6 linked regions of the Homo sapiens genome follow. The protein of the gene in region 1 purifies or fractionates together with the protein of each later gene. This does not show direct contact. Each region holds a gene or a part of one and is shown on either strand. Other genes may lie near its edges.

Region 1 (3,816 bases):
GCTTCACTGTGATTTACCTCCTCCTCCTACTTTCTGCACGACCAGTTTCCTCTCTCCAGTGACAAAACAGCTGAAGCCACCAGATCTACAGAAGGAAGGGGGCTGAAGGCCCAGGCTGAGGGCAGTTAGGAGGACTACGTGACAGGGTGTGGACGTGCACTGTGTGTGCGTGCGTGCGTTTGTGTGCATGTGTGTTTGTGTGTGTGCACGTGTGTGTGTGTGTGTGCTGGGAGAAGGACAAAGCTTCCTCCAGTGCTAAAGCCTTCAGCAATTGTATGAAAAGCATGTGTTGCAAAACAATCCAGCATCAGGCGTTTGCAGGGCTTTAAGTAAAAGCTGCCCAAGCACGGGTGTGTTTGTTTTTTCCCTAGCTCTGATACCCTTTTGATCTGGTTTCCTTTTTTCTTTGGGCTTTATCTGGAGACGTGTGAAGAATTGGAGGCCGCGCTGGCTGTGTGTTTTGGCGGTGCTACTCTGGTTAGCCATGTGTGCCGGAGCTCTGGGGACTTCTGGGGGGTGAGCCACGTGGCAGCTCCTTAGGGCTCCTTCTTAGCGAGTCTCCCAGCAGATCTGCCAGAGCAGCAGGTCGGCAGCAGGAGCCCAGGTCCAGCGTTGCAGGGGTGGGGAAAACCATTTCCTGGCTGGAGAAGGCTGCTGCTGGGCTGGGTGGGCAAGTCCTGACACATTAGCGATCAGCCAACTGTTTTATTACCAGGTCTCCCATGGAGAAAACACTTCGTAAATCGAGGAGCTGTTACAAAAGTCGAATGGCAGCATCATTAGTGCCCAGCTTTCTGGAAATGTGGATTTCCTGACAGTTTTCTCACCTTCTCATCTTATAGATTTCCTGTCAGCCTGGATCATAGCCATGACAGCCTCCCCGTTCCCTGGCCTCTCTGTGCATGCACCTGTGCATGTGTGTATAAAGACAGAATTATTTAGACAAATGGCTTTCAGAAGTTCCGTCACAGATATACCCCATGTTCGTTTACAGTGAGTTTCACCCAACATTTGAGTCTATTTACTGAGAAATGGTTGGGAAGGAGCTGAAGAGCCACTGCAAATGATTGTAGATGGATGTGGTAACTTTTTGGGGTGAAAGATTTAGCAGCTCAGATGATAAGGTTAGATTAAGATAGCATTTAAAATGACATCTGCAAAGAGAGGCAGTTTTAATTAAGAGAATCTACTTCCAAACTCCCTACTCATGGGGAAACTAAGGCTCATGTACAGCGGCAGAATGAGGGTGATCAGTCTTCTTTCTATTTATTGACAGAAGACTCTATTTAATAAAGAGTGTATGGGCTGCCTATAATTCCAGCACTTTGGGAGGCCGAGGCAGAAGGATCACTTGAGCCCAAGAATTCAAGACTAGCCTGGGCAACAAAGCAAGACCCCGTGTCTACCAAAAAAAAAAAAAAAAAAGGCTCACACCTGTAATTCCCAGCACTTTGGGAGGCTGAGGCGGGTGGATCAGGAAGTCAGGAGATCGAGACCATCCTGGCTAACACGGTGAAACCCCCATCTCTACTAAAAATACAAAAAATTAGCCAGGCGTGGTGGCAGGTGCCTGTAGTCTCAGCTACTCGGGAGGCTGAGGCAGGAGAATCGCTTGAACCCCAGAGGCAGAGGTTGTAGTGAGCTGAGATCGCGCCACTGCACTCCAGCCTGGGTGACAGAGTGATGAGACTCTGTCTCAAAAACAAACAAACAAAAAATTAGTCCATTGAGGTGGTGTGTGCCTGTAGTCCCAGCTACTTGGGAAGTTGAGGTGGGAGGATCACTTGCTCAAGCCCAGGAGGTTGAGGCTGTAGTGAGCTATGACTGTGCTACTGCACTACAACCTGTGTGACAGAGCAAGACACCTTGTATTAAAAGAAAAAAAAATTTTTTAAAGAAAAAAAAAAAAGAATGGTAAAAGCCCCTGGATAAAACTGACCGGGGGAAGAAGGTAGAAGACAGAAGATGGTGAGTTTGTTGTCAATTTGGGCTTCATCTCAGCCCCAGCCCACCATTCTCTAGGCCATGGTTTTCTTATCTTTCACTGAGTGATTTTTTTTTTTTTTTTTTTTTTTTTTTGGCAAACCTCTGTGCATGAGGTAGGTGGAAATGGTTAACCATGGCTGGGTCCTCAGCCTGGCCTGGGCTCCATGCTGCAGAGGGGGCATGGGTGGGAGCTGGGAGCAGTGAGCTGATGCCTGATCAGTGGGTCGCTGGACTTCTGAACGCAGGTAAGTGCATGCAAGGAGGCAGCGTGCAGCCCAGCCCTCTCGGGGCCCAGATTGCTTCTTGTTAACAGTGAGCTCTCCAGGAGTGCCCTGCTTTTTTAAAAAATTCACACTGAAATTTTGTTTGGAGCAAATGTTGCTTGAAACAAGAAGGCTGTTGGCCTCCATGGACAGCCTTTTGTTTCAAAGAGCATTGTGTCATTGCCAAGTTTGACCATTGTAAGATGTCAGAATGTAACTTGTCTTTTCCGAAGCCGCTGCTGATCTGCTCTTGGTCAAGCCTCTCAGGATTCCAGCTTGAGAATCATCTAGAGTAATTGTGGAGCCTGTGGGAGCTAGGTCCACCCCATGAAGGGCGGGTGTGTGCTGGCTCCTACACCGTTTTTTGATTCTTGTTTTCCCTTCTCTTACAGTATTAAGGGACATCAGCGAGAGAGGCAGGGATCTTGAGCAGATTTTATCTCAGTACATTACGTTCGTCAAGCCTGCCTTTGAGGAATTCTGCTTGCCAGTGAGTTGTGTTCTTGGTTTGTTTTTGTTGAATGTAGAATTTAAAATTTGATGATATAAACGAAGGTGTGCAAGTTTGTGGAGCTCCCCTGCCTGAATCTCACTCCTCTCTCTGAGTGATCCTCTGTCCTGAAGTCCTAAGAGAGGGCAGCCCTTGGTCCTTGTGTCCTCTGTGTTCTCCAGGAGCCCTGTCCTGCTGTTCTTTCTTTGGGTAGCCCTGTAGGGTCCTGCCAGTCCTTAGGCAGGTCATTTAATTCCCAGCTAGTTCTAGGTTTCTTGCTTGGTGGGGTCATGGTGTGAGACCGTTTACTGAGGGTGTATCATATCCAAGGAGAGTCCTCAGCCATTTGGATCTCTGAAGGGTCTGCAATGGGTGACGTATGGATGCACTGGGTGCTGTGCCCCGAGATGTTCCCCTCTGAGCCTCTCCTGCCATCACCACTGAGCCCTGCTTTGAGCTTGTCTTTAGCTCCCATTTGGAGACTGTCATGCCTTACTGGAATAAGCTTCCTTCCCTTCACCCTTGCAGACTCACCAGTCCTTCCTGTGGCAGCTAGGAATTCTCTAGTGAGGTGGCTTTCAGAGAAGGAAGAACACAGAGAGTTGGCCCTCAGCCCAGGAAAGACAGGAAGGGGCATGTTGAGGGAAGGCTACCAGAGACAAGAGGTGTGGTGTGCTGGGGCTGCAGAAGGAGAAGTATTTAACTCAGGAGAATCCTACTGAGTCAATGAGTCTTCTCCAGCTTGGCCAAACCATGGTCTGGCTCCTGAATTATTTATAGTTAAGCTCTGAGACCGGGAGGAAGGGAAGGAAGAGCTTGGGACTTAACCTGGTCTTGGTTGAGATACACTGGGAAGGCTGGAATCTCTGAAGACATTGAAGATTTAGAGTAAGGCTGGGTATTGGAATTTCCCTATTTATTCTAACAATAAACTTCATTCTTTTTCTTCTGGGAAAATATCTCAAACTGTCTTTGTTTCTTTAAGGATGTTACTAGCTTTTACAGCAACCCATACTTGACTTTGGTTTAAATGCGGGACAGGTGGACTTTTTGAGCCAACTGAGTAACATTGATGCC
Region 2 (3,816 bases), on another chromosome or scaffold:
TCTTCCTGGGCCTCGTGGAAGCCATTCCCTTGAAGCAACAGTGCCATCTCCTGGACAACCAGCAAAGGTACCCAGGGGAGGAGAAGGAAGGATTTGTGCCAGAATGCTGGAGCGTTGCTGAATTTCACTTCTTACTCCCAGGTGGATTTGGAAATACCAAGAGATTTCTACAACTAAATCTTCTTAATCAACATAACAATGATATTTGCTAATATCATTAAAAACAAATGTTATGTCACAACACTTGACTCTTTAAAAATCAACTGTTTAGAATATTCCACAAAATAATACTTTTCTTCTCTTTCATAGCAGATAAACCTAAAAGTTTGATGCAAGTAAACTTTAGTGGTATGGAAACTTCCCATCCCTTTGACTGAAATTGCAGTATTAGGGCTGCCCAAGTCTGTGAGGCTTTCTTGGAACGCAGCACCACCACCACCACATATGCCTGTGCATGCACACACACACATACACATGCACACACACACACGACTTTAGTCACCAAACTAGCCTAAAGGTTATATTTTTCATCAAAAGGGGCAGAAGCTGGTATAGTAGAAATATTCATTGAAAGAGAGAAAATGATTCAGAGACTGCAAAATGTTTTATTTATGGTTGACAAAGGATGTTAGAAATAGGAATTTTTTGTACTTGGAAAGCTCCTTAGAATTACTTAATCCAACCCATTTATTTAACAGACTAGAAAACTTAAGTGAATTTTGTTTTTCTAATTAGAAATGTTAAATGTGAGAGTGGTCAACTCAAGAAGCTGAAATTTTCCTTCTCTGCCTAATTTAATGAGGTGAACCAAATGACCCTTAGGGGGCCAACTCTAATATCAGCGCTGCTGGAATTTTTTATAGCTACTTCAAGTATTAGTCTGTACAGACTTATTATTATTATTGTTATTATTATGCTAGTAACTAGTATTTATTAAGCACTTAACCATGTGAAACATTCTGGGCTAAATGCTTTTCATATATTGCCTCATTGAACCTTCCAAGTAATCCTTTGCAGTGGGTGCAGTTTTTAATCCTAATTTTATGGATGAAGAAATTTGTACTCAGAGAGGTTAATAATTGGCCAAAAGTACAACCAGCTAGTTGTCACGAGTGCAACTAGCTGGGGCCGGTGTCACAGGTGGTAAAGTAATTTACCAAGACAGTTGTAGGTAAAGAAAGGCAGATTTATTAGAGAAAGTATGTATGAAAATGCGTTGCAAAGTTGCAACCGGCAGCACAGCAGAGAAGGGGCTGTGTAGAGGCAGGGTGCAACTGCAGCGAAGTTTTATAGAGTTGTGCTGGGGGGAGCTGCTGTGCTGAAGGAGGTCATTGTGCGCACAGAACAAGGTCATTGTGCCAGGAAGAAGTCATTGCTTGTGATTTCCCATTTCTCAGAACAACTGTTCATTGTTCTTCCCCACCTGGGGCTCTCTCCCACTGGGGACCCCTTCCTCATTGTTGAACCAAGGTTTGAAAACAGACAGACTGGCTTCGAAATTCCTTATCACTGTTCTATTCCACCTCATATTACTTTTCTGAAGGAAAATTTTTCTGTAGTTTACTCTCTTTTACTATATGAAAACCAGAAAGTACTAGAAAGATAACATTGCATTTTGTTAGCTTTAAAAAAAATCCGTTTACCATGTATTGTTCCTTTATGCCCTTATTTATGGCATCTCCTGATCATATGGAACATATTTGAGAAAGCCAAAACTCCTACAAGCATGCTCAATATCCTATACAAACTCAGTCCCCAAGGAAGGTACCCAAGAGTACATTGCTCTGTAAACTCTGAGACTGTATTCCTAACTTGTAGAAGGCAGAATTGTAACCAAAGATGGTCTTTCATGAAGCCATCTGTGTTTATCAGTATTCTGCCCTAGAGAAGTTCTGGGTCAGGTCTTATTTCAGGTCAGCTCGTCTTTGCTCTGGAGTGAAATGGAACGAATGAGAATGTCTTCCCAGAAGCCATGTGCAGGGTCACTTCAGATGCTGGAGAATTTCCAGTAAGGAAGAGAATCAAAGGGTCAGGATGAAATTCTTACAGGCCAACTTGGAACAAACCACATCCTTTTTTAATGTACTTGGACATTTACGATTGATCTTTGACCTGTTGGTGCAACTAGATATGCTACATGGTTTCCTTTTCTGAATAGGAGTTCCTTATTTTTATACTTGAATTGTGTCGCCAGTGTAACTTTTCCAGGAAATATATAAAGTACAATTATTTGGCTACTTTTTTATTTTAGATTTTGTGATTTATTCAATAAATTAGAGACCAGAAACATCAACTCCTGGGAACTTTGAAATATATTTTTAATGTGAAAATACAATGTATTAGTTTCCAAGAGCTGCCCTAACAAAATACCACACACTGGGTAGCTTAAAACAACTGAAATTTATTCTCCCACACCTCTGGAGACTGGAAGTCCAAAATTAAAGTGTCTAGGGTTGGTTTCTTCCAGAGACTTTGGAGGAGAATCTGCCTCAGACCTCTCTCCTACCTTCTGGTGATGGCTGGAAGTTCTTGGCTTGTAGACCTATCACTCTAGTCTCTGCCTTCACCTTCACATGGCATTTTCTCTGTGTCTCTGTGTTGCAGGAAAATCTGGGTTCTTGTCACATGACCAGGTTAATTTAGGCACGCAGACACTTTGAAGGGTGAGTGGTTACAGAATTTATTTGGCAAAAAGGAAAAAGACTCTCAGCAAAGTAAGAGGGGTTCCTGTTAACAGGCCCCCATCTTACAGACTGGATCCCAGGTTACCACCCAGGAAAAGGAGAGGCCAGGCTGCTCCCCACTGCAAACGGCAGGAACTTCCATAGCTCCATCCCATTCTCCCAGTGCACAGGCTGGTTAGAGGGTCTCTGGGGACCCGATTATACTTGGCTGTCTCATTTGTGTCTCCACATGGTCATCTTATAAGAACACCAGTCATACTGCAATAGGGAACAACCTTACTCTAGTATGATTTTAACATAACTTAAGTAATTACATCTGCAGCAACCTTATTTCCAAATAAATTCACGTGCTGAGGTATTGGAGGTTGGAACTTGAACGTATCTTTGTGTGTGTGTGTTTTGGGGGGTGGCGCACAATTCGACCCATAACACATAACATACGTTACATAGTATATAAAATATATATGTACAGTTTTTTTTAATTATTGTAAAGCCATCACCTTCTAATCACATCCTTGGTCAAGAAATTAGACACTCTTAGCCCCAGAAAATCCTTCCATTTTCCAATTTTTGAACTTTGAATAAATGGAATCATAAACACAAATTCTTTTGACTTGCTTCTTTCACTCAATATTGTATTGGTGAAAATAATCTGTCTTGTGCTGTTTAGTTCTCATTTGTTCATTTTATTATGTCTGTCTTTTAGCACGAGTAATCCACAATTTATCCATTCAACTGTAGATGGGCATTGCCCGTGTCAGGCTATCCCAAGCACTGATGCCATGGGCATTCTTGCACATTCTTGTACTCTGGTGCTCACGTGCAGGGATTTCTCTGGGCTCTACATCTATGAGTGGAATTGCTGGGTCACTGGGTATGCATATCTTCAACTTCATTAAGTACTGTCAAATAAGCAGTTGTACCAGCTTACACTCCGATAAGCCATGGGTGAGGGTTTCTCATTGTATTACATCCTTATCAACATTGGTATTTTCCGTCTATTTAATTTTAGCCAATTTCTTGGTTGCAGAGTGATATCTCATTGCATTTGAATGGTTTCCCTAATTACCAATGAAGTTAGACACGTTAATATTTTTACTGACCAACAATGCTTTTATATTACTCTTATAAG
Region 3 (3,500 bases), on another chromosome or scaffold:
CGTGATCACGGCTCACTGCAGACTCAAGTGATCCTCCTACTTCAGCCTCTCAAGTAGATGGGACCACAGGCGTGTGCCATCACACCAGGCTAATTATTTTTCTTTTCTTTTTTTTTTTTTTGAGACGGAGTTTCGCTCTTTTTGCCCAGGCTGGAGTGCAATGGTGCGATCTTGGCTCACCACAACCTCTGCCTCCTGAATTCAAACGAATCTCCTGCCTCAGCCTCCTAAGTATCTGGGATTACAGGCATGCGCCACCACGCCGGCTAATTTTTTTGTATTTTTTGTAGAGACAGGGTTTCTCCATGTTGGCCAGGCTGGTCTCGAACTCCCGACCTCAGATGATCCGCCCACCTCGGCCTCCCAAAGTGCTGGGATTACTGACCTGAGCCACCGCACCCAGCCTATTTATTTAATTTTTCACAGAGATGAGGTCTTGCTATGTTGCCCACACTGGTCTTGAGCTCCTGGGCTCAAGTGATCTTCCTGCCTTGGTCTCCCAGTGTTGGGATTATAGGCGTAAGCCACAGCGCCTGGCCGGCAGTTCTTTCTGGGGTGATTAGAAGTTGGGACCATGTATTACCTGTCTGAGTCAGCATTATAAACACCTATGGTCACTGTCCTGGCAAAACATGGAATCATCAAAGCTCATCTAACCAGAGTGCAGTTAATAACCAGGAAGTAAGCAAGAGAAAGACAAAGGATTTGGCAGTCAAAACAGATTTGACAGGCCAAGTCAGATCCTCCTCTGAACGAGTCAGAGGAACAAATAAAGACAGGATTGCCATAATGCCTCTGTGCTAAAAGCTTATCTTGTTTACTTAAATAAAGGGAGTGCCCCTCAGGTCTTGAGTAAGAGCTTGCTGACATCACCCTCACACAGACTTTATCTCTTGTTTCTAACCCTGTGTTAGAAGCAGTAACACAGAAGATTTAGTTGCTCCTGACAGCAGTGGGAGCTATTGTCTAAGAGATACAAAGGAGAAAAAAGTATACCTGCAGCAAGTGATATCACCTCTGGGGCTGCCACCACATCACCTCACTACGCCCTGAGGGGGTCTCAGCACTAGACAAGTTCCAAATCTTTTGCAAATTAAACAACCCCAGGTCAGGCGTGGTGGCTTATGCCTGTAATCCCAGCACTTTGGGGGGCTGAGGTGGGTGGATCACCTGAGGTCAGGAGTTTGAGACCAGCCTGGCCAACAGAGCAAAACCCCATCTCTACTAAACAAAATACAAAAATTAACCAGGCGTAGTGGTGTGCACCTGTAGTCCCAGCTACTTGGGAGGCTGAGGCAAGAGAATTGCTTGAGTCCAGGAGGCCGAAGTTGCAGTAAGCCGAGATCGCGCCACTGCACTCCAGCCTGGGTGACAGAGTGAGACTCCATTTCAAAAAATAAAAACAACAAAAGCCAATTACAACAACAACAACAAAAAAACAACGAATTAAACAACCCCAAAGATTGCACAAATTTCAAGTATCTTTAGAATATGTTTTCAGAAAGCCTGGCCCATGGACATTTTTCAACAGCATCTCCATTGCAAAGGTGGAATGGTGTGAGTCACACAGGCATGGCTGAGTCCCACTAATGCACATCCCTTCTAGGTACTCTCCAATCACCAGCCCCAGGTGCCCACTCAAGCCCAGCTCTTAGTGAGGTTTCCCTGACTCTCTGGGCACTTCCACTCCTACCACACAGGGTAGAGCCACACCCCTTTCCGTACCCCCATGTGCTCTGGCAGCATTATTTTGAGAGCCTTCGCTTTACTGCACGTCTGTCCCATCTGTCCCCTGACTGGTCCATGAGCCCCTGGTGGGAACTTTGTCTCTGGTAACTAAACACTGTCTGGAGGTGGTGGACAAGGTGTCTGGAGAAAAACAAACTCCTCCCTGGGATGCCTGAGCTCCCAGGATTCTAGAAGGTTAGTTTTGCAAACCTTTAAAGAAGGGATTTTCATCAAGGGGCCCACAGATCCTTCATTGAGGTTTATGAGTCCCACATCAAAGGTTGGGTGTCTATCTACATCAGATTCTCTTAAAGTCCATGATCCTAAAACAGTTAAGAACTAATGCTGTGAGGGCCTCTTCCTGGGTCAAAGCCACAGGGAACCTGCCATGTGGATGCTGCAGCGGGGTGTGGATCAGCCAGGCCGCCTTTCACTGTGTTCTGTTTTCCCTCCCAGCTTTAGCTCCGCCAAAATGAAACACTCATTAAACGCACTTCTCATTTTCCTCATCATAACATCTGCGTGGGGTGGGAGCAAAGGCCCGCTGGATCAGCTAGAGAAAGGAGGGGAAACTGCTCAGTCTGCAGATCCCCAGTGGGAGCAGTTAAATAACAAAAACCTGAGCATGCCTCTTCTCCCTGCCGACTTCCACAAGGAAAACACCGTCACCAACGACTGGATTCCAGAGGGGGAGGAGGACGACGACTATCTGGACCTGGAGAAGATATTCAGTGAAGACGACGACTACATCGACATCGTCGACAGTCTGTCAGTTTCCCCGACAGACTCTGATGTGAGTGCTGGGAACATCCTCCAGCTTTTTCATGGCAAGAGCCGGATCCAGCGTCTTAACATCCTCAACGCCAAGTTCGCTTTCAACCTCTACCGAGTGCTGAAAGACCAGGTCAACACTTTCGATAACATCTTCATAGCACCCGTTGGCATTTCTACTGCGATGGGTATGATTTCCTTAGGTCTGAAGGGAGAGACCCATGAACAAGTGCACTCGATTTTGCATTTTAAAGACTTTGTTAATGCCAGCAGCAAGTATGAAATCACGACCATTCATAATCTCTTCCGTAAGCTGACTCATCGCCTCTTCAGGAGGAATTTTGGGTACACACTGCGGTCAGTCAATGACCTTTATATCCAGAAGCAGTTTCCAATCCTGCTTGACTTCAAAACTAAAGTAAGAGAGTATTACTTTGCTGAGGCCCAGATAGCTGACTTCTCAGACCCTGCCTTCATATCAAAAACCAACAACCACATCATGAAGCTCACCAAGGGCCTCATAAAAGATGCTCTGGAGAATATAGACCCTGCTACCCAGATGATGATTCTCAACTGCATCTACTTCAAAGGTAAGAGGCACCTTTACAGTTCTCACAGCAAACCCACAACATACTATTTTTGTATGTGGGTAGATTGAATGCCAAGAACTGTACTGTAGCTATAATTTATCCAGGAAAACTAGACACAAGATTGACTCTGGAACGGGGACAGGGAAGGCCAAGCTGAAGTGACAGTAGCATCTGACACTTACTGAGCCCTAACTCTGTGCTTTAACACAGCCTTGTGAGGTCATCACTGTTATTAGCATCCCCATTTTACAGAGGAAGCCACCAACACATGAAGTAAAAGGATGGGCTGGGCGCGGTGGCTCACGCCTGTAATCCCAGCACTTTGGGAGGCCGAGGCAGGCAGATCACTTGAGGTCAGGAGTTCGAGATCAGCCTGACCAACAGACCAACATGGTGAAAACCTGGCTCTAC
Region 4 (3,288 bases), on another chromosome or scaffold:
AAACTGGACCCTAATAATGCATCAATCTGAGAGGAAGGCCAGGTAGGTCAGGAGTTGGTCATAGCTCACCTGGGTTTAGGGTGTGGGACTTCATTATACTGTTCTAGTCTGCCTTTTGCTGGTTTACTTTTCAAGTATTTGCCTGAAATCTTAAATATTAACAAGGTATGAAACAGGGATCAATGAAACACATCATGGTATATGGTTCAGTGACAGACAACAGTGGGAAATCGCCGTGAATGGAAGCAAGAAATATGGGACAAAGTACTTGAAGGTTCCTGGCCATTTTTATTTTATTCTTTTTTTTTTCTTTCGAAATGGAGTTTGCTCTTTTTGCCCATGCTGGAGTGCAGTGGCGTGATCTTGGCTCACTGCAACCTCTGCCTCCTGGGTTCAAGTGATTCTCCCGCCTCAGTCTCCCAAGTAGCTGGGATTACAGACACCCGGCACAATGCCTGGCTAATTTTTGTATTTTTAGTAGAGATGGGGTCTCACCATGTTGGCCAGGCTGGTCTTGAACTCCTGACCTCAGGTGATCTGCTCGTCTTGGCCTCCCAAAGTGCTTGGGATTACAGGCGTGGGCCACTGCACCCAGCCCTCTACTTTGTTTTTTGTGCCTTTCTCTTCCATAGTGTCCATAATGATCATGCATTAATTACTTTCATAGCTTAAAAAAAAGTTGAATGGGAAAAATGGGTCACTGTGTATTTGAGAACAGTACTGGATGCTTCGTGTTTGGATGTGTGGGTGGATCTGCTTCTTTCTTCCATATGCTCTGCTGTGTGCTCCCTGGCTGCCCTGCTTTAATTTTATTTTGTTTTACACCCTGCATATCTTGATGTCTGCTTTTTTCCTCAGGTCTGGAGCCCGGCACTGTGGTCATAACAGAGCAGGCAGTGGATACCTGCTTCAAGGCAGAGTTTGAGCAGATTGTCCTGGGGAAGCGGGTCATCCGGAAAACGGACCTTAACAAGAAGCTGGTGCAGGAGCTGTTGCTGTGTTCTGCAGAGCTGAGCGAGTTCACCACAGTGGTGGGGAACACCATGTGCACCTTGGACTTCTATGAAGGTGAGGCAGCGGATACGAGGAGGCATCTTTCAGCCAGGGAACCCTGGTCCGTCCCCTGAGCCTGCCTTCTCGCTGTGGACTGGCGTTTCCACTTGCCAGGCTGCTGTCTCAGTTACACTTCGCCCAGAGTGGTTATAATGACCCGTTTGAGTGGTCATTATAGGCAGGACCTGGATGGGTCTTGCTTGTCCCTGTGTCCTTCTGGGCATCAGTGGCGCTGATGTGTTGTAGGAGCTTCTCACATGCATGTGGTTCTCATGTCTCCATGTGTGCCTCAGGGCAAGGCCGTCTGGATGGGGCTCTCTGCTCCTACACGGAGAAGGACAAGCAGGCGTATCTGGAGGCAGCCTATGCAGCCGGCGTCCGCAATATCGAGATGGAGTCCTCGGTGTTTGCCGCCATGTGCAGCGCCTGCGGCCTCCAAGGTAAGCGGCACTTGATGGGCCTCGGCGTCCCCTCCTCCCTTCACTTCTGCTCTCCTGGAGCCCCTCGCTGGGGCCCCTCCTCCTGGGGCACCCCGATACCCATTTCTGGTTTCTGTTTCCGCTGCCCCCAAGTCACTTTCTGACATATGTGTTGTCACCACAATGCTGTTCAATGTCTGACTGTCACACCCTGACAAAATGCAGGATTCTCAGTGACCTTGTGCAGGAAAAATGACAAAAAAGCTTTTGCTGCCCCATGAGGCTGCCACCAGGTCTATAAAAAACTCGGCTTTCAAAGCGCTTTGGCTTTCTGAATTGTGGTTCATCTACCCTCAAGGTACTAGCCACCCTTGAAGGCCAGCTCACAGCTCTGCAGAATTCCCTTATCACCTCGGCCAAAACGTGCCTTTCAAGGTGGTGCTTGCAGCCCTGAGCTGGTCCTGGAATGGTGAATTCCTTTTGGAAGCAGGCACGAGAATAAGGGAGGGACAGGGCAGGGTGGTGTCAGAGAGGGAGGAGTCTTCCGAGCCCCTGGACCAGCGCCTTTCCCTCCCGCACTCCATCCTCCGGCCCCGCCTGACTGCATGGGCAGCCTGGTTTCCTGAGGAGGCAGAGAGGCTGCTCCTCAGAGCTCGTGGGTTCTTCATCCCGTCCCTGTGAAATGTTAGACCCCCGGCACCTTGCCTTGATGTGGTCTTTGTCCTTTGCAGCGGCCGTGGTGTGTGTCACCCTCCTGAACCGCCTGGAAGGGGACCAGATCAGCAGCCCTCGCAATGTGCTCAGCGAGTACCAGCAGAGGCCGCAGCGGCTGGTGAGCTACTTCATCAAGAAGAAACTGAGCAAGGCCTGAGCGCTGCCCTGCACCTCCGCAGACCTGCTGTGATGACTTGCCATTAAAAGCATTGTCCAAAATCCCCTGTTGTGTGGACTTTGAGCACACTTTACACAAGAATCTAGAAAATCAGATCGCGATTAAGAGACAGAGAATCTTGGATTAACCGCATGGGAGATGTTCTTCCTTTTGAAGTTTCATTGGAGCATTTTCAATGATGTTAGCCTGATTTGGGGTTTCTTCAAGAACATTCTACCAAATTTTTGTACTATTTCTAGGGAAATTTTTCAGACTTTAAAATTCTAATGGTAGTCAGATTTCATGTCACTAAACAAGAAATCTGACAATAGTGCCAGGAAACTAATTTCCTGATACATTAAAAAAATTCCATGCACCACTTGCAATGAGAGATGACTGAAAACCAATGAAGCAGACAGCAGGGGTGTTTGAGAAATAATGCGTACCTAAACAGGCATATACACAGTTTCCAAATTATAGTCACACACATTCCCAAAACCATCCACACCAGCTTAATCACACGACAGTAATCCTCCCACCCATTGTCCACAATGCTAGTGTCTTGATCCAAGTACCTAGGGATGGGAAACGGGACACCTGGGCTCAAGACAGCTTGTCCTATTGTTTCTGTCCATGGCTTGTCAGCCTTGCATTCATTCCTGGCCTCACACTGACATTCCTAGACTCCGTGTCTCTTAGCTTCCTTCTCGGTTGCACCTTATAGTGGAGGGGAGAATCCAGGGTGGCCCCTCTGTCTGTCTCGGGTGAGTCTGGCAGCAGCTACTTGGGCAGGCCTAGGTCCCCAGCTCAGGGGCAGCTGGGTCTTGGGTCTTCACTGGCTTGTGGGTTGCCCAGGCTCCTGGCTGACTTCTCAACTCTCCCCACATCAGTGTGGCCACTTTCTGGTATTTATTGTTTCCTGTCCTTGAGATGGGCTTATTTCCT
Region 5 (3,816 bases), on another chromosome or scaffold:
TTTGATTTTCAGTCCTAGGAGGGAGACCTTATTATCTTCATTTTCCCAATGAGGTACAGAAAGTCTAAGTATTTATCTGCGGTTCTGTGGCGAGGAGTGACAAAGCCAGGATTTGAACCTAGGCCGTCTCACCCAACAGGGTGGGCTCTTTAATTTCTTTACAAATTCAACCTAATTGATGTAATAACCATCTGGATACTAGTGACGAAAAGACAAGAGTACTTACGGTGCCCCTAGTTAGAGCCTTTGAAGTCTTGTTTTATGAAGAACTATACATTTTAATTCATAAGGAGAAAACCTTCTCTTTGTGTCCTTGGTGTTAAACAATCCCCCCAGTGACATCATGAATAACAGGCATTTGCAGAAGTGTGTTCACCTGAATTGTCACTTATAATAAATATGCATCTGGTGAGGACTCATGTTTCTCTTGAGCAGATGAGAATCCCAAGCAGCACATTCCCCTGGAGGAGTACGCTGCGAACCTAAAGAGCATGGTGCAGTACCTGAAGTCCGTGGACATCCCTGAGAATCGAGTCATTCTCATCACGCCGACCCCACTTTGTGAAACAGCCTGGGAAGAACAGTGCATCATACAAGGTAAACAAACCACAGCCAATCTCGGCAAATCTGGATAGGAATGCTGAGGGAGGAACTCTGATAGGACAGTGGTTTCCTGCCTGGGGCTTCTGTTTCTTAGGGGCTCGGTATGTCCATTTCAGTCTGTTTTCAATCCAAAATTATTAAATTATAGCTTCCATTATGTTATACCTGAGACCTTTTTTGACCTAGAAAAGGGATTCTGGCTTTGGATAGTCAGGAGGGAACCGCGGGCCTGGCATCTGCTGACCTTTACAGTTACCAGACTCCAGGGTGCACATGAAGGCCACTGAGATCTGTGTAGAGCTGTGGTGCTCGGCCTGCGGGGGCTGATGCTGATGTGCCTTGACTTGGAAGTCCACACCTGGGGCTTTTTACTGGTCCACAGAAGCTGGGGGTAGGAATGATCAGATAGGAGTCGCCAGCACTCCATATACTTGGGTTTCACATCCCTCAAGTGCTGTGTTTTCAATCCACCTTTGACTGAAAAACCTCTGCACATAAGTGGACCTTCACGGTTCAAACCTGTGTTGTTCAAGGGTCAGCTGTATGTTAATGTTGAAAATGTGCATTATGGAAGTTCTCTTTTTTTTTTTTTTTTGGAGATAGAGTCTGGCTCTGTCAGCCAGGCTGGAGTGCAGTGGCACGATCTCGGCTCACTGCAACCTTTGCCTCCTGGGCTCAAGCAATTCTGCCTCAGCCTCCTGAGTAGCTGGGATTATGGGTGTGCACCACCACGCCCGGCTAATTTTTGCATTTTTAGTAGAGACGGGTTTCACCATGTTGGCCAGGCTGGTCTCGAACTCCTGACCTCAGGTAATCTGCCCGACTCAGCCTCCCAAAGTGCTGGGATTACAGGCGTGAGCCACCGTTCCTGGACTGGAAGTTTTCTAAGCTGCCCAGAACTCAACATTCTAGGACAAATGACTGGCTTTGCAACACAGAACAGCTATTTCTCAAAGTGTGGTCTGACTCTGAGTTAACTGGGATTTTTAGGTAGATTTCTGGACCCATTTTCAGCACTCCAGATGTTTCTTACACACACCACAGCACACATACCACAACTTCATGGAAGGCTGTTATTGTCCCTACTTTACCAGTGGAGAAATGGAGTCTTAGAGAGGCTAAGTAACCGGCCCAAGATCACACAGCCAGCAACACAACCAGGAATCAAATCCAGCAAGTGTGACTTCACAGCTCAAGTCCTTACTGTTGTATGAGTTTACTGTTGAGTGGGGTTGTAGCTATGTCCCTTGCTCTCAAAGGGCCTGTCATCCTTAGAGAAGGATCCAATGCGTTCTCAAGTCACAAACAGCATATGCCAAGGGGTGCCACACACCGGAGGCACAGACAAACGGGGAGAAACCCCAGCCTGCGGGACGTGGTGACAGTAGGTTCTGGGCATCACATCAGGGCAGAGGGGCCCTATTGCTGTGCATGAGACACCAGAGTGTTCTGCAGGGAAGGGGAGGTGTTTAAGGCCCACAAAGCTCCCCTGGAGACAACTTCAGAGCCCCAGCTTGCTTCTGGGCCTGCAGCCCTAACTGCTTTGGGGGGCAGTGTCATCTTGGCTTTAACAAAAGGGGAAAAATGTTACATAGCATGGTCCACAGAAGCTGTTTAGACTTCTTTTTGTCTACTGTTTCCCAGGAAAATAATATATATGAAATTCTGAATGTTTAATTTCATTTCCCCTTTCTAGCCTTGAATGTAGCCCAATGCAGACTTTTTAAAAGGTCAGTGATGGGCAAAGCAGGTAGAGGAGGGGTCACATCTCAATAACTGGTCCCCTAGAAATTCAGCAGGTTATTTTTTGAGATGGTCTTGCTGTGTCACCCAGGCTGTGTAGGGCAGTGGATTACTCATAGCTCACTGCAGCCTCCACCTCTGGGCTCAGGTGATCTTCTTGCCTCAGCCTCCCAAGTAGCTGGAACCACAGGCATGTGCAACCATGCTCAGCTAATTTTTTAAATTTTTTTGTAGGGATGGGGTAGCTAGTTATAATCTAGGTGAATTTTATAAACAATTGATCCCAAGTATGAATCAAAGCTGGTGAATAGTTTCTTCGCTGTGATGTAGAGCCTGGGCCAGCATAGGTCCTCCTGTGGCCCGCATCCAGTTGCCCATATCCTCATGCTTTCTCTTTAATACCATTCTGTAGTCCGCCTCTCGCCAGCCCTCACTGTCCTGTTTGCAGCCTCCTGAGCCTTCTCCCCTAGCCCCAGCCCCACCTTCCAAACCAACCTAGCACAATCCCCAGATACTGCACTCCAGCCTTCCCTGGTGCAGCTCCCTGGGAGGATGAGGCAGCCTGCACTTGTGTTAGATACACTCAATCGTTCTGTGCTAGCTGCTTTGCTGGTGTTTAGTCTCTTAATCCTGCCAATATTCCTGCAACTAGGTAGGCACTGTCATCATAAGAATGCAGAAAGCTTCAGGACGGTTAAGCTGTTCAGGCACACCGCTATTTAGTGAAAATTGTAGGCATCAAAACGAAGGTCTCTTTGTCTAAAGCCGACAAATGATTTTGCTGTGTTGCGGTCCAGCTGTTACATGTAAGAAGCCAGCGGTGTCAGCGCAGCGTTCAGCTTCCATGGCCTGGCATTTCCTACTAGTGCAGCCCTTACCAGCCCCCAGCCCAGCTCCTGCAGCCGGCACTCTCCAAGCAGCCCAGCCCTCCTGGGCCTTTCCTGCCTCTCTGCCTCTGTTCAAGGTGTCCTCTAGAACATCCTCCCTGGCGCCTCAGAAGATTCCGGTTACCACTGAAGGCTCCTTCTTCCCACTGCACCTTGTCCTCTGCTGGGTAGAGCAGCACACCAGTAACCTGCAAGGCTCATCAACATATACCCTAAACCCCGGGGCTGGCCCAAGTGGGGTCAATATTTAATGGCATTTTGAAACTGTCTAGATGAGTGGAGCAGAACTTACACAAGGGCCAGCACTTGGGTTTACCAACTGCCACCTCTATTTCTTCTCTTCAATAGGTTGCAAACTAAATCGCCTGAACTCTGTTGTTGGTGAATATGCCAATGCGTGTTTACAAGTGGCCCAAGACTGTGGGACTGACGTACTTGACCTGTGGACCCTGATGCAGGACAGCCAGGTACGGTGGCTTGCTCGGTCCTCTCGGGGTAAATAGGATCACACAGAAGTAAACCAGGTGTGTGTGCAGCAGCTTTCCCTAGAAAGGCCCTGCTTAGCTAAGACAGTCATCCCTTT
Region 6 (3,816 bases), on another chromosome or scaffold:
TTTTGTTATGTTCCTTACTTGGCCAGGTCACAGTTTAAACGTCATCTGCTCCTTTCCTTCAAAACACTTGCGTCAGGACAAGAATCACGTTGTCATTGTCTTTGCTGCAGGCCACTGCTGTGCTGGGCACGTGGCTGTCAGTAAATGTTTGCTCAATCAGATTACACTGAACAATTATTTGACCACCACATATTGCTAAGCATGACAGAAATAATTCTCTGGAAAATGAAATGAGATTGCTCTTTATTAGTGTTTCCCAGAACTCCCATGTCTAGAATGATCTGGTTTTGGATTTAGCTCATGGAGCCATTTATTTGGAAGTCCCTGCTGTGTTGGAAGACTCAGCCTGTTTCTGGGTTTGATGGTAGACGTTCGTGCTTTATCCTAAAGAGACAAGATCACACTTGCCCGTGAGTGTGTGGCCAGCTGCTGGGATGAGAAGGACCTCCAGGCCCCATGCATTTTGAGTGTAGCAGGCACTCGGTCATCTGATATCTACCTGCATGTCTCACTTATGCAGTCCTCTGATTGAGAACAAAGTAACTTTTACTATGTGTGGGCAAGGCTTGGAATCAAGTCTGGTATATCTGATTTCAAGGAAAAAATACTAAAATCACTAGGAGTTTGAAAAGCAGTCACTCATAAAGAGATTGTCCTGTGGTTCTGAGGACCACACACAGCTTGGATGGATGAGGACCAGACACAGCTGATGTGGACAATTCCCCTGTAGCCAAGCTGGGTCTGATAATGGTTAGGCCTTTCTGTTCAATGCGGAGGACAGGTTCAAGGCCACTGCTGCCACCACCAGCAGGGAATCACCCTGGGCACATCAGAACCTGGGGGATGCAGGTGTCCTCTATGGGGACAGCAATAAAACTTGGATAGGAGGCCGGACGTGGTGGCTCACGCCTGTAATCCCAGCACTTTGGGAGGCTGAGGCAGGCGGATCACCTGAGGTCAGGAGTTTGAGCCCAGCCTGGCCAACATGTTGAAACTCAGTCTCTACTAAAAATACAAAAATTAACTAGGCGTGGTGGCGCATGCCTGTCGTCTCAGCTACTTGGGAGGCTGAGGCAAGAGAATCACTTGAACCTGGGAGGCAGAGGTTGCAGTGAGCCAAGATCGTGCCGCTGCACTCCAGCCTGGGTGACAGAGCGAGACTCCATCTCAAAAAAAAAAAAAAAAAAAAAATCTGACTTGACAACAAAAAATGACCAGGCAGACATTTATGTTTCTGACATAGAAAAATGTTCATAAAGCTAACTGAAACAAGCAGGATAGAGTATAATCCCTTTTTTTTGTAAATCAAAACACACATAAATATATTTATATATGTAAATAAACTTACAGGAGAAAATAACTGTGGTGATTATCTGAGTAATGGATGGGGTTTGGGGTAATTTTAACATTTTTCTTTTTGTTTATCTCACGGTTCCCTAATTCTTTCAATGACTGCGTCTTACTTCTGTCGGATGAAATCACACATAAGATTGCAGGTGCTGAGCTCCCAGGCAGGAGCTGTTTGTATTGGCCCACGTGTGAAGCCCACCACCAGCCAGAGATGGAGGCAAGATGAAGCAGTTGATAGAGAAAGGACTTTCATTTCTGGAGTGTCTCAGCAGCTTTGTGTGGAGGATAAGCCACGTGGGTCCAGACCGGATCCGGCAGGCGCCGGATATTAGCTGCTGGGGTGTGGGCCCCGGGGCTTCGTTTTATCTGCTCTCATCAACATTGTGGTGTCTACAGTTATTACTTTTTCTAACATATGACTGATATCAGCACTGATAAGGTCTCCTTTTCATAAATTTACAGGCGTTGCCTTCTTGCCAGCTAGTATCTCTTATCTCATTGGAACCAATATTTTTGGGATACTTGCACACAAAATGGGGAGGTAAGATGATATGAAAACAACACTCATTCTGTTACAATAATGTAGTTCTTTCAAAAAATTCTAAGTTGTTTCTGCCTTTGCTGTTACAAGTAATTGTTTTGATTTTCATTGAAAATTTGGACTAGAAAAAAATCAAATGATCATTTCTTGATGGTGCTTTTTCTTTTGGTAGGTGGCTTTGTGCTCTTCTGGGAATGATAATTGTTGGAGTCAGCATTTTATGTGTGAGTAAAAGATGGCATTTGACAAGTGGGAACAATCTGTGAATAAAACTTGCGCTTTGGGCAAGAATCACCAAGAAACATTTTACGTTTGAGTTTGTTGATGTTTTATTACAGCTTTCATTTTATTCTAATTTTTTATCATCTTAAAAATGTTTGGACAAGACTTTCCAAGGAGTGTATTTTCATTTTATGTCAGAAATTATTTAAAATGTTTTATTTCACAGTTTAACTTTTCCCCTGCATCATCTTAAGCTTGACAGTGTCTTAAACACTTCAGGACAACCAACCTGAAACAATAGCAAGATGTTTTTCTAGAATAAAATCTCTTCTACCAATGGCCAATATCCATCCCTCATGAGGCCTACTTGTTCTTGTCAAAACTTGAGGGTGGACTAGGCTGATCTTTCACATATGCCGGTGACAAGTTTTTCATGGTGGTCATAAAACTCGTTTCAAGCTTTGACTTTTAAAGATTTGGAGGGTCCGGTTCTTCACAAACCCCACCCTTCTTCCTCCTGTTTTCTTCAGAAGGGAACAGGCATACCACGCTCAGAGAAAACACAAGTTCAAGACTTTCCGAGATGATTTAGAGTTGGATCTCTTGTTATTTTAGCATAATGTTTATTTCCTCTTACAGATTCCATTTGCAAAAAACATTTATGGACTCATAGCTCCGAACTTTGGAGTTGGTTTTGCAATTGGTAAGTCACACGAACCTTGTGCCTACATTTAAAACCGCTTTTCCACTAGGAAGGGTTCTTCTTCCTCTGGTAGACTGTAGTTCCTCAACCTAAATTTCCAGAATCTTAGAAGGAGGCTGCAGGCAGCTTAGCTAAATTACAGCCTGTCGATTCTCCGTGTAAAGACACCTGCTTCTATGCACTAGTCATTTATTTCCTGAAAACCAGTATTTTTTAAAAGCTGATATTTACAGAAGGAAACTGATGCTCCACTGCTGGGGCTGGGCAAACAAAGGAATCCCTTGCACAGAGCTCATTTTTGTGGACTCCTCCCTATGAGCAGGTCTTCTCATGAGGCTGGGGGCAAAGGCTTCACATATGTATTTTGAAGAGGTTTTAGTACAGACAAAGCAGACTAATGTGTTGATGACCGCCTGTGCTGCAGGAATTCCCATGGGCAAGGAGATGGGCTTTTGTAATGTTAAGAATGATAATATGTTAGGAAAAATCTGTCACTATTTTGAGTGAATGGTATACTTTTGTCTCTTATTTATAATATACCAATTGATCATGATAAAAATAAGTGCTCAGTCCACCCCTGTAGAAGCAGGAACGCAACCTTTGAGTGGTACAGTGGCACAGCATGGCTTTCACTGAGGACAGATGGTAGAAGGCTGCTGAGGCTGGGGTAGAACTCAGTATGGTACTCTAGGTCCTTCTCAGGTGACCGTTTGCCTGTCCTCTGCCTTGCCTCCCCTTGTCCTCCACTGTCTGGTTGGCCCATCTTTTTAGGGAGGGTGCTAGTCCTCTGGCGGCTCCCCTTGCCATTCTGCAGGTCTGGCAGAGTTGCAGGTTGCTAACTGTACGGCCCCTGGCCTGCATCCTTTTGGTGCTTCCCTGCTTTGCTGTTTTCTGGTTCACTTGTCCCTCACCACTCAGCACACCTGCATGCCTGACCCACCTCCTGCCAGTCACACCTGGGCCACACGCTTAGACTATGGGTGTTTCCAAGGTGGAGAAT

What was found.
Region 2: the proteins of UCK2 (region 1) and ASB4 purify together in Homo sapiens (co-immunoprecipitation; one large-scale study listed by IntAct). This does not show direct contact.
Region 3: the proteins of UCK2 (region 1) and SERPIND1 purify together in Homo sapiens (co-immunoprecipitation; one large-scale study listed by IntAct). This does not show direct contact.
Region 4: the proteins of UCK2 (region 1) and UPP1 fractionate together in Homo sapiens (co-fractionation; one large-scale study listed by BioGRID). This does not show direct contact.
Region 5: the proteins of UCK2 (region 1) and IAH1 purify together in Homo sapiens (affinity purification with mass spectrometry; 2 studies listed by BioGRID and IntAct, with this or other methods). This does not show direct contact.
Region 6: the proteins of UCK2 (region 1) and SLC18A2 purify together in Homo sapiens (co-immunoprecipitation; one large-scale study listed by IntAct). This does not show direct contact.

The regions. Positions count from the first base shown.
Region 1 is NC_000001.11:165,900,541-165,904,356, forward strand, and holds part of UCK2 (uridine-cytidine kinase 2), read left to right. Parts: intron 1-2,641; coding exon 2,642-2,739; intron 2,740-3,816. UniProt on the Homo sapiens protein: Phosphorylates uridine and cytidine to uridine monophosphate and cytidine monophosphate. Does not phosphorylate deoxyribonucleosides or purine ribonucleosides. Can use ATP or GTP as a phosphate donor.
Region 2 is NC_000007.14:95,523,847-95,527,662, reverse strand, and holds part of ASB4 (ankyrin repeat and SOCS box protein 4), read right to left. Parts: intron 1-3,816.
Region 3 is NC_000022.11:20,777,113-20,780,612, forward strand, and holds part of SERPIND1 (heparin cofactor 2 precursor), read left to right. Parts: intron 1-2,184; 5' UTR 2,185-2,200; coding exon 2,201-3,089; intron 3,090-3,500. UniProt on the Homo sapiens protein: Thrombin inhibitor activated by the glycosaminoglycans, heparin or dermatan sulfate. In the presence of the latter, HC-II becomes the predominant thrombin inhibitor in place of antithrombin III (AT-III).
Region 4 is NC_000007.14:48,106,015-48,109,302, forward strand, and holds the end of UPP1 (uridine phosphorylase 1), read left to right. Parts: intron 1-858; coding exon 859-1,068; intron 1,069-1,346; coding exon 1,347-1,493; intron 1,494-2,203; coding exon 2,204-2,343; 3' UTR 2,344-2,722; downstream 2,723-3,288. UniProt on the Homo sapiens protein: Catalyzes the reversible phosphorylytic cleavage of uridine to uracil and ribose-1-phosphate which can then be utilized as carbon and energy sources or in the rescue of pyrimidine bases for nucleotide synthesis.
Region 5 is NC_000002.12:9,480,851-9,484,666, forward strand, and holds part of IAH1 (isoamyl acetate-hydrolyzing esterase 1 homolog), read left to right. Parts: intron 1-435; coding exon 436-597; intron 598-3,581; coding exon 3,582-3,700; intron 3,701-3,816. UniProt on the Homo sapiens protein: Probable lipase.
Region 6 is NC_000010.11:117,264,921-117,268,736, forward strand, and holds part of SLC18A2 (synaptic vesicular amine transporter), read left to right. Parts: intron 1-1,812; coding exon 1,813-1,891; intron 1,892-2,063; coding exon 2,064-2,115; intron 2,116-2,752; coding exon 2,753-2,816; intron 2,817-3,816. UniProt on the Homo sapiens protein: Electrogenic antiporter that exchanges one cationic monoamine with two intravesicular protons across the membrane of secretory and synaptic vesicles.